2 separate regions of the Homo sapiens genome follow, and region 1 is linked to region 2. The links come from fine-mapping of genetic effects on gene expression. Tissue or cell type: tibial artery. Region 2 holds a variant in brackets; the other region holds the start of a gene. All regions are shown on one strand. Distances are from middle to middle. Region 1 holds the start of ZNF268 (zinc finger protein 268). Region 2 overlaps ZNF268 (zinc finger protein 268).

Region 1 (2,921 bases), 28 kb before region 2:
GGATCACCTAAGGTCGGGAGTTTGCGACCAGCCTGACCAACATGGAGAAACCTGTCTCCACTAAAAATACAAAATTAGCCGGGTGTGGTGGTGCATGCCTGTAATCCCAGCTACTCAGGAGGCTGAGGCAGGAGAATTGCTTGAACCTGGGCGGAGGTTGCGGTGAGCCGAGATCGGGCCACTGCACTCTAGCCTGGGTAACAAGAGCAAAACTCCGTCTCAAAAAATAAAATAAAATAATAAAAATAAAAAGACAAAGAAGATGTTGGTGAGGATGTGGAGAAAAGGAAACTCCTATACACTGTTGGTGAGAAAGTGAAATTAGTATAACCTATGGAAAACAGTGTGGAGAATTCTCAAAGAACTAAAAATAGAATTACCATTTGATAAAGCAATCCTGTTACTGAGTATCTACCCAAAGGAAATCATTATATATATAAAAAAAATACCTGCACTCATATGTTTATCACAGCACTATTCACAATATCACAGGTATGGAATTAACCTAAATGTCCATGAATGGATGAATAAAGAAAATGTGTTATATATACACAATGGAATACTATTCAGCCATAAGAAAGAATGAAATTGTCTTTTGCAGCATCATGGATGGAACTAGTGGCCACTATCTTCAGTGAAACAACTCAGGCACAGAAAGAAAAACACATGTTTTCACTTTAAGTATGAGCTAAAGGATATGTACACATGGATGTAGAGTGTGGGATGATAGACAATGAAGACTCAAAAGGTGTGGGGGGGTTTCAGGGATAATCATAAATTACCTGACTGGTACAATGCATATAACGTACTATAGGGCGTGGATACCTTAAAAGCCTTGACATCACCACTACACAACTGATGCATGTAACAAAATTACACTTGTACCTCATAAATTTATAAAAGTTTTTAAAAGCCAAAAACAAAAGAATTCTAGAAAACTTGTATCTGCCTCTGTGAATGTCACCTCTTCCCAATACTTAAGATCAATAATGATTAGTGGATATTTTCCGTTGGTGCAAAAGTAAGTAATTGCGGCTTTTGCCATTAAAGTAAACCAATATTTTCCAACTGGCCAATACATGATGTTACGAAATCATGCGTGATAAAAGAATCCATTCAAAGTGCAGTGTAGACCAACGGATTTTATGTAATAGAGTAGAAAAAGTTCATCTACGTGGTTTCAGATTGTACACTAACAAAACTATCCCTTGTTCGACTTGTATCTTTATATACTTTAACAAAAACAACATACGCAACAGATTAAACATAGAAGCAGATATGAGAATCCAGCTTTCTAGTAAGTCAGAAAAGACTTAAAAAGCGAAGCCACTCCTTACTAAATTTTTTCTTTTGTAAAATATATGTAATTTTCATTAAAATATTATTTATGTTAACATGTAATGGGAATTTTACGAATCTGTTATTAAAGTGTAAAGCAAAATAAGACTTTTACCATTTCAGTAAAGCAGGGACTAGAACACTTGTAACCTAATTTACATCCCTCCAACCGTTGAGCCATTGGTGTCAAGTATTTTAATTCTCTTTAAAATTTAAAACCTGCAAGCGCGGGAGCTCAGGGACCTGGCCAGGAAGGCCTGAGCTTCCGGGTCATCTTAGCACGCCCCCTCCCGGTGGCCCTTGGCCGGAGCCCTCCGGCGCGGGAGTAACTCCTCGCAGAGGCCTCTGGGAGTTGTAGTTTTTTTGCCTTTGCCTCTCCATGACGCAATTCCTGTGCGACATACGTAGCGGCCGCCATTGTTCCGCGCCGATGGCGAGATCCTTGTTCCTCAGATAGCGTTCATCGCCCGTCGTGGTCAACGGGCCAGCCGAGTCTGGAGTGGTTGCGAACCCTTCTGGCTGCAGATCTGGAGGTGGAGGCAGTACCCTGGACTCTATTCTGCTGCCCCTTCAGGGTTTGGAGGAGCCGGAGGTGCGGAATTCCTCCGGTTTCAAGGCGGCGGGACGGGACAGAACTAATCTGCCTTAGCTCTCTCCTGCTGCTGACCCGGGGCGGTTGCCTGACCCTAACCTGTGTGTTGGTGAGGGTGTGGAGATGGTGAATCCCGTGCTGTGGGAGGGAAGGAGCCTCAGCTCCGAGAATGGCAGGCAGCCCTGGTGCCTCGGACCCTCCCCCTCTGGGTTTGGGGACTGCTGGGTGACCTCTTTCTTCACTGTGCTCTCTCTTCTAGCATCCCTCGCGTCCTGTCACTTCCAGCGAGGCACACAAAACTGACCGTAGGGATGGCCACCAGGGTCCGGACAGCTTCTATTTGGGTGAGTAGGGGTTTTCTTTCATTCTTGAAAAGCTCTCCCTGAATGCCAACGTGTGCGCACTCCATCTACTCCAGTCTGAATTTGCCAGGAGCTTTCTCACCCCACCGCTCTTTTAGGCAACTGGATCGTCATTTATAGCATGTTAGACTTTCCAGAAATGCTTCTTGTCATCCGACTTCCTTTTTTCCTCCTTTCATCAATCTCTTTTCTAACAACTTTGTACGCTGAACTTTGGAGTTAAACAAGGGATACTCACACATCTTTCAGTTTTTTCAGCCTTTATTTACTGAGGGCCTTCTGTATCTGGGATCTTTAAACCTTATTTTGGAAATTACAAACTTTTTTATTCACTTGTTCAACATTTTTTTTTATTGTATTTTGTTTGCTGGACCCTGGGGCAGGTGCTAAAAATGCAAAGATGGGTTGCTTATCATCCCTGTCTTGAAGAACAGTGGTCTAGGAATGGTGGATAAGAAAGACAATGACAAGTTAATGAGTGCTCTGGGAGCAGGCTGTGGAAATACACGGAGACATGCAGGAATGGGTCAGTTTTGGAAGTAAGGACACCCCCTAACCCCTTACTCCCAAATGCTTCAATGATTAAGAGATTCTTAACCTTAGGTTTGAAAGATGACAAACCTAAAGTA
Region 2 (2,921 bases):
TACTTGGGAGGCTGGGACGGGAGAATCACTTGAATCTAGGAGGCGGAAGTTGCAGTGAGCTGAGATCGTACCACTGTACTCCACCCTGGGTGACAGAACTAGACCCTGTCTCAAAAAACAGAAGAGTATGTTTGGAAGATTTAATATTAGAAAATATTTTAATTAACTACCAGATAAAACTCATAAGGATTATCTCAGTATATGCTGATAAATCACTTGATGGAATTTAACACCCATAGATGACACTAAAATACTATTAAGTTGGGAATTAAAATTAACTCCTGTAACTTGGTAGGGAATATATGTTCTGAAAACACAAATGTCATACTTAATGATAAAATAGTAGAAAGATTCCTTTAAAGTAAAATTAGCCAGGTGCAGTGGCTCATCCATGTAATACCAGCACTTGGGAAGGCTGAGGCTGGAGGATTGCTGGAACCCAGGAGTTCGAGACAAGCCTGACCAATATAGGGAGACCCTGTCTGTACAAAAACTTTTTAAAAAGATTAGCCAGGTGTGGTCAGGCGCCGTGGCTCATGCCTGTAATCCCAGCACTTTGGGAGGCCGAGGTGGGCAGATCACTTGAGGTCAGGATTTCAAGACCAGTGTGGCTAACATGGTGAAACCCCGTCTCTACTAAAAATACAAAAGTCAGCCAGGTGTGGTGGCACGTGCCTGTAATCCCATCTACTCGGGAGGCTGAGGCAGAAGAATTGCTTGAACCTAGGAGGTGGCAGTTGCAGTGAGCCAAGATTGCACCACTGCACTCCAGGCTGGGCGACAGAACAAGCCTCCATCTCAAAAAAAAGATCAGCCAGGTGTAGTGGCAAGTGCCGGTAGTCCCACCTACTGAGGAGGCTGAGGCAGGAGGTTAGCTTGAGTCCAGTAGTTCAAGGCTACAGTGAGCTATGATCATGCCCCTGCACTCCATCCTGGGCAACAAAGTGAGACCCTGTCTGTAAAAAACAAAGCAAAATTACAAGAATGCGCATCACTTTTATGAAATGAGTAACATCTAGCCAAGGTGTGAAAACAAGGAATGTGAGGAATTAGGGATGGGTGCAGAAACAACTGCCATGAATTGGAGATGTGATCGTGTAATTAGGAAACCCAAAATAAACCACAAACAAATGTTTGGAACTGCCAGTAGAGTAGCAAGTATGCAGTTGTCAGTATTCATGGAGGACCCCCCC[G/C]CAACCACAGATACTCCCTGTGGATGCTCAAGCTCCTTATATGGCATAGTATTTGCATTTTTTTTTTTTTTTTTGAGATGGAGTCTCGCTGTATTGCCAGGCTGGAGTGCAGTGGTGTGTTCTTGGCTCACTGCAACCTCTGCCTCCTGGGTTCAAGCAATTCTCCTGCCTCAGCCTCCCTAGTAGCTGGAATTACAGGCACACGCCACCACGCCCAGCTAATTTTTGTGTTTTTAGTAGAGATGGGGTTTCACCATGTTGGCCAGGCTGGTCTTGAACTCCTGACCTCGTGATCCACCCTCAGCCTCCCAAAGTGCTGGGATTACAGGTGTGAGCCACTGGTCTGTATTGATTTTTCTTAATTCTTTGCTAAAGGGCCAGGTAGAGTTATTTATTTCTTGTAGAGATGGGGTTTTACCATGTTTTCCAGTCTGGTTTCAAACTCCTGGGCTCAAGCAGTCCACCTGCCTTGGCCTCCCAAAGTGCTAGGATTACAGGTGTGAGCCAAGCACCCAGCCATAAATCTTAAATAAATTCTGATTTTGGTATAAATGATATATTTAAATTTAAATGAAGTTGCAAGTTTTAACATGTCTACTCTTTAATTTTCAACATTGTTTCAACTACTTGTTAGAAACACAGGCCATTAAAACATTAATAAAAAGGCTGGGCATGGTGGCTCATGCCTGTAATCTCAGCATTTTGTGAGGCTGAGGCAGGTGGATGACTTGAGGTCAGGAGTTCGAGACCAGCCTGGTGAAACCCCGTCTCTACTAAAAATACAAAAATTGGCCAGCTGTGGTGGCATGCATCTATAATCCAAGCTACTCAGGAGAATTGCTTGAACTGGAGAGGCGGAGGTTGCAGTGAGCTGAGATTGTGCCATTGCACTCCAGCCCGGGCAGCAGAGTGAGACTCCTTCAAAAAAAATTAATAAAAGCAAGCACATAGGGTGCACATTTGCCCTTCCCTCTTGGGATCCAGGGTGATCCCACAGGTGCTGTTCATCCCCAACTTTGACCTGGACTGTTGCAGTGTTTTGTCGCAGTGTTTCTCCCTTTTTTTGTACTGGGATTTCTCCCCAGAAACAAACCCATATGTATAAAAAGTAGTTGGGCTTGCTATAAAGATGACTAGTGGAAACCTCAATAGAGGTACGATTTCCTAAAATAAATCTTGTTCAGATATTACAGGGCAAAGTGAAACAGCAAAGCTCCCTCCTCAGCACTCAGGGTGCAGGCCTCACTTTTCCTCATCTTTTCCTCCTGTGGCCTCCATGTATCCCAAAGGTGAGATGACATCGCCCCAGATTGGTCCGGAAAGTGCACTGGTCGTCACTGTGGGTGTACCCTACAGGAGTCTTCAGATATGGAAGCTCTGGATCTCACTGTGATGTATCCCCCTAGGGGGTCCCCAGGTTGTGAGGAAAAGGAAGCTTTAGTCCTCACTGTGGTTGCATCCCCCACCACGGGTCAGTCCTGAGGAGGATACTCTGGTCATCACTGTGATCTACCTCCCAGGGGTCCCCAGGTTGGTCCTGAGGAGAAGGAAGCTCAGAACCTCACTGTGGATTTGCCCCACTAGGGTCCCTAGGTCAGTCCTGAAGAGAAACAAGCTCCAGTCTTCACTGTGGTTGTGCCCCACAGTGGTCCTCAGGTTGGCCAGTGGAGAAGGAAGCTCTGGTTCTCAGTGTGATGCATCCCCCAGGTTGGTCCTGAGATGAGGTAA

Evidence for each region. PIP is the estimated chance that this variant, and not a neighbour inherited with it, causes the effect.
Region 1: it holds the start of ZNF268, and the variant in region 2 is fine-mapped to the expression of ZNF268 in tibial artery (GTEx, PIP above 0.99).

What each region holds. Positions count from the first base shown.
Region 1 is chr12:133,179,757-133,182,677 of GRCh38, forward strand. It overlaps ZNF268 (zinc finger protein 268), which reads left to right and starts at 1,739. Exons shown (of 6, transcript NM_003415.3): 1 at 1,739-1,930; 2 at 2,190-2,274. The coding sequence starts at 2,242. RefSeq lists enhancers at 1,457-1,981, 1,577-1,886, 1,927-2,126.
Region 2 is chr12:133,207,696-133,210,616 of GRCh38, forward strand. It overlaps ZNF268 (zinc finger protein 268), which reads left to right. Exons shown (of 6, transcript NM_003415.3): 6 at 1-2,921. Among named protein-coding and RNA genes, the nearest start is that of ANHX, 27 kb to the right of the region's middle. The variant G/C (reference allele first, on the strand shown) is at 1,194.